Regions from separate parts of the Homo sapiens genome. Here region 2 is linked to region 1. The links come from fine-mapping of genetic effects on gene expression. Tissue or cell type: esophagus mucosa. Region 1 holds a variant in brackets; the other region holds the start of a gene. All regions are shown on one strand. Distances are from middle to middle.

What was found. PIP is the estimated chance that this variant, and not a neighbour inherited with it, causes the effect.
Region 2: it holds the start of YLPM1, and the variant in region 1 is fine-mapped to the expression of YLPM1 in esophagus mucosa (GTEx, PIP 0.98).

The regions. Positions count from the first base shown.
Region 1 is chr14:75,293,838-75,296,592 of GRCh38, forward strand. It overlaps LINC01220 (long intergenic non-protein coding RNA 1220), which reads left to right and starts at 567. Exons shown (of 3, transcript NR_038421.1): 1 at 567-704; 2 at 840-900; 3 at 2,283-2,573. RefSeq lists an enhancer at 135-274 and a silencer at 345-804. The variant C/T (reference allele first, on the strand shown) is at 1,378.
Region 2 is chr14:74,761,915-74,764,542 of GRCh38, forward strand. YLPM1 (YLP motif containing 1) reads left to right here and starts at 1,402. Exons shown (of 21, transcript NM_019589.3): 1 at 1,402-2,448. The coding sequence starts at 1,576. RefSeq lists an enhancer at 1,110-1,449.

The DNA.
Region 1 (2,755 bases):
AGAGATCGCGCCAGTGCACTCCAGCCTGGGCGATAGAGCGTGACTCCATCTCAAAAAAAAAAAAAAAAAAAAAAAAAAAAACAAAGGAAAAGAAAAAGAAGGGACAGGAGGGCCTCCTTCCGCTCCTGACCAGCCCCTGCTGGCCCGTGGGCAGAGGGAGAGCCGGCTTCCAGGGACCTCAGGGAGGGACGTTTGGGAGTGCTCTCTCAGCGTCCCCTCCACCGCCCTCTCTACACCCTTGCCGCGCCCCTGTCCTCGTCGGCCAGGCCAAGGTTTCTCCTGGCCCTTCCCAGCTTCCGGCCCTTTGCTCCAGGGCAGGTCGCAGGGCCAGACGGTGCCAGGAGCTCGCGAGTCCTCTGTTTACTGTTTGGTTTCCACGGTGACACGTAGGCGCCGTCAGCGACTCCCGTCACCGCCCCGCAGCGCGGCCCCCACCCGGCGCCGTGACGCCGGCCCGCCGCTTCCGCTCTGCCCATATTTGGCTCAGCCACTGCGCCGCCGGCCCGGGGTAGGCTGTGGGCGGGACTCCCGCCGCGCCCCGCCCCCGGTCCCTGCCCCGCCCCTGGAATGCTGGGCGAAGGCTCCGAGCCACGAGACCCCCGCCTCCTGTCCCGGGACCCACCCAGGCGGAGGCAAGGGCAGGGGCGCTGGGGGCCCAGAGAGAGGGCGCCGCGATGGATGAATGAGCTGTTTCCAGCATTCCTGTGCGTCTGCTGGTTGTAGCTGCAGTCAAGATTTGGGGCGGTCTCGTTTGTTGTGGGTGGGTGATCTGGGATCACGATTTTCTCACTCTGTGCCCGGAAATCATGCCATCTCTCGCCCAACGCTGTATTTTATAGGCTTCAACTCAAAATTTTCCTTCATGGCACAGTGGAAAGCTTTGAAGACGGCGGTTCTGGGGTCAGTGTTGCCCCTCGGGGGATAAGTGACCTTGGGAAGGCCATTTTCCTTTTCCTGGCATGATAAAACGAACCGTGGGGGTGGTCCATAATGGTTGCAGCACTGTCATCAGGCTTGTGAGGGGAGCTTTTCCATCACCCTCTAACCACCCCCTCCCCAGGACATAACTGGAATATCAGTGAAGTTCTTTGAGCATCGACCCCCTACAGTTCTGCCCCCTGTGGTGATTGGATTTGTGTGTCTCTGCACCTTGCTCCTATTAGGCGCTTAATGAACTTTAGTTAACTGATTATTGAATGAATAATACGAATCACCTTCATAAATCCGGACCCCTGCAATTCCTCTTCCAGGCCGGGCGAGGGGGAGGGTAGGGGATGGGGGAGAATATTGAGATGATTAATAATCGCGCGGCAGGGTTGCTGATGTAAAGCGATTTGCAGATCTAAAGGGCAATAAGCATTCCTGGGAGAAATCCAG[C/T]GAGATTCCAGAAGTCTCTGAGGGAGCCGTGGGTGTGTACCGCCGGGCCCAGAGGGCGGGGGTGGGGCAGGCAGTGCCGCAGTGGCCGCTGCTGGGGAGCCGATTGCAATTGCGAGGAGAAGCGTGGGGTTAATCCTTCAAGACGCCTGTCACCATCCTCCCACCCCCATCCCTGCCCCCTAGATTCCCCAGTTCCTCTGGCTGAAGGAGTGTGTGTTTTCCAGAGTTTCAGAGCTGGAAGTCACATCGGAGACTTTTAATCTAATTTAACCTATTTCGCCAACAGGGAAATTAAAGCTCAGAGAAGTTGGTTCGACCATCCAAACTTGCACAGCTAGTTAGAAACTGATAAAAGTCAGGATATCTAGCTTCAAATAGTGTTCCACATCGCCTAGGTGCTTCTAATTTCCTGTGCTTCAGAACCCTGTTGCCTGGCTCAGCTGGTGGGTTGTACATTTAGGCTAAATATTGACTTCAGGGCTCTTAAAGAACGCCATTGTCACGTCTGCTGCCACACGCAGCCCACACCATGACACCAGGGCCTGGGGGGGATGGCCAAGAATTGTGTACTTCCTAAAGCCTCAAGCATTCCTCCTTAGAGCAGCTGGAATGGTCACCCCTGTCCAGGGAACAGGAGTCGGCTGTTCTGAAACCAGTCTTAGTCTAGCAGTTGGTCACTTTTCATAGTTACCCAAGCCTTGCATTAAACTTTTCTCAGCCAAGATTACAGCAGGAGGCAGGAGTAGCCCTAACCCTTTTCTGCTGTTTGGAAGTCTTTTCATGGCACATGGAGGGTTCCTTGCTGGGGGTGGGGAAGAGTGCCTCTTCAATGCTTCTCTCTTTCTCTTTCCCCTTTCAGTCTCACCCAACTTCCTCTTACACGCTGTTTCTTCCCTAACTTCTAGGCTGAATATGAAGGCAACTCGGACTAAGAAGACGACTGCTTTCCAACTGCCCTCCCGTCCTGCAGCCGCCTGATTTGAGGAAGGGGCTGGGATCCTTCCCCTTGCCCTCTGGTTGTTCTTGGAGTTACAGCAGCCCCGCGGCAGCTCTGCCCCCTAGTGCACATGTGAGGCAGCGCGCCCTTCTCCAATCCAGAAGCCTCGTCGCGGTGCTGCCAGCAAGGGAGTTTTTCTGTATTCACTTTGGTGGAAATAGCAAAACTTGACAGAAAAAAAACCCAAGCCAAACCAAAACACACGAACCATTCTAGCCTTTTCTCTCTTTCGTTTCTTTCTGAGGATCTGGCCGATTTGGATGCAGAAAACATGCCTGTTGCTTCTGCTGCGAAATCTGCTCTTTCTCTTCCTGCTATCGGAACCCTGTCCCTTCTTTCAAAGCCTAATTCAGGCCAGGCGCGGTGGCTCACGCCTGTAAT
Region 2 (2,628 bases), 530 kb before region 1:
AGATTACAGGTGAGCACCACCACGCCTGGATACTTTTTGTATTTTTAGTAGGCATGGGGTTTCACCATGTTGACCAGGCTGGTCTTGATCTCCTGACCTGGTGATCTGCCTGCCTCAGCCTCCCAAAAGTGTTGGGATTACAGGAGTGAGCCCCCGCGCCCTGCCTCTGCGTTTCTTTTCTGTCTATGAAATTATCCCGATTGTTCTGCTCATTGGAACACTGTTTCTGCTTTATAGAATGAGACGTTGCCCAATTCTAGAATAGCAGGTAAAAGTTAATTAAGATCTTTAAACTAAATTTGTTGTAATTTTGTCTTTTGACATGTAATTTTCTGTATATTCGTTATACTTCAATAAAAAGTTAAAAGAAACATAACTAAATTTCTATTTGAAAACAGAAGCTCTTCCTTTTGAAGGATGCCTTGCTGCTCCACTTTCCATTCACATTCACCTCCTGAGAGAGGTGAAGATCTGGGTTGCTAAGATGGAAGAAAGGTCAATTATTTGCATGTTACTCAAGTGATGCACTGACACAATATTCTCACAGTTCTCCCTCCCCCCGCCCCCCCCCACACACCCAAAAGAATTCAGTGTATTAGCTTTGCTTTTTAGTGATTCACTCAAGCTAAAGTAAGAGTTTATGTCTGGTATTACGTTGAGAGCTTTTGGAAGATTATCTTCCAGGTTGTCTTTAGACCATCTTTGTATCTGGTTTTTGCTCTCTTTGCTTTTGCTCTGAGATTCTGCAACACCGATTTATATGTGTTGAGACAGTCTAAAAAATTCCATTTCTCCCCTTCTACAATTCCTGCAGATGTTACTCACTATATGTCTGCAGGAATTGGTGTAATCTTACACTCTGCCTTGAAAACACCTTTCCATTCTTCACAGCTTTGTTCCCAGTTGAATTTCTGGGGAGAATTGAGTTAGGTCTATTCATTTAATTTGGGAGAAACTGACATCTTTACAATTTTTCCTCTTTTCACCCAGGATCATGGTAAGCCTCTCCATTATTTGAAGTCTAATTTCATCCTACTTGGATATGCTTCTTTATGACTCTGTAGCTTTCTACATATAAGTCCTACATCTTTCTTGTTAGAGTTTTTCCTAGTTGCTTTATGTTTTTTTGTTGTTGTTGCGATTGTTGCTATTGTGAATGGAACCTTTTTTTTTTTTCATTCAAAAATGAACCCGTGGAGCGATAGGATCTCTACCACCTCTTTCGGCTGTGAGACTCTATGGTTTTTCAGTTCTATGAGAACATTCTACTGGAGCCTACATTATCTGAACCCAAAGGAAGATGGCAACCACGAGTCGCCAAGTAAAGGACCGCTCTATCTCGCCTTTGTTCTCCTCTCGGTGGTTACTGCGCAGACGTAGTCGCCCAAGTCGCGTCCCCGCCTTCCCGGTCGCGGGCCCAGCTCGGGAGCGCCGGCGCACTGGCGCGCTCCGTTTACACGCTCCGGGGCCTGTAGGCGCCGCGAGTTCCGGCTGTCGCCGTCGCCGCCGCGGCTCCTGGAGGTCGGTTGCGACGAGTAACGGCGCCAGGACGAGCCCTGCGCCTTCTTTTTCGATATGTACCCGAATTGGGGCCGGTATGGCGGGAGCAGCCACTATCCGCCGCCACCGGTCCCACCGCCGCCGCCAGTGGCGCTTCCTGAGGCCTCGCCGGGGCCCGGGTACTCGAGCTCGACGACTCCCGCGGCCCCCTCCTCCTCGGGCTTCATGAGCTTCCGCGAACAGCACTTGGCGCAGCTCCAGCAGCTGCAGCAGATGCACCAGAAGCAAATGCAGTGCGTGCTTCAGCCCCACCACCTTCCTCCGCCCCCTCTGCCGCCCCCGCCAGTGATGCCGGGGGGCGGCTACGGAGACTGGCAGCCGCCACCGCCACCGATGCCCCCGCCACCCGGGCCGGCCCTCAGCTATCAGAAGCAGCAGCAGTACAAACACCAGATGCTCCACCACCAACGAGACGGGCCTCCTGGTTTGGTTCCAATGGAGCTGGAATCCCCCCCTGAATCTCCCCCTGTGCCGCCTGGGTCCTATATGCCCCCATCTCAGTCTTACATGCCCCCACCTCAGCCGCCACCCTCTTACTACCCCCCGACCTCATCTCAGCCCTACCTGCCTCCTGCTCAGCCGTCCCCTTCGCAGTCCCCACCTTCCCAATCCTACCTGGCGCCCACCCCTTCTTACTCATCCTCCTCCTCTTCCTCGCAATCCTATTTGAGCCATTCCCAGTCCTACTTGCCCTCTTCTCAGGCATCTCCTTCCCGCCCCTCCCAGGGCCATTCTAAATCCCAACTACTAGCTCCACCACCACCGTCCGCCCCCCCTGGAAATAAGACAACTGTCCAGCAAGAGCCTTTGGAGAGTGGGGCCAAAAACAAGAGTACTGAACAGCAGCAAGCCGCCCCTGAGCCAGATCCCTCTACGATGACTCCACAGGTAAGAAAGCATCTGCCTGAACCTCATCTTTCACCTAGAGGGCCCTGAATGAGCAGGCCTCAGGGCTTTAACCAGTGGTTAGTCTAATTCCAACACACAATGACTAGCTAACACTCCAAAGGATTCCGTAAGAGTCAGAGGGCTGACAGCTCAGCTTTTTAATTAGCTAGATGTGAATTA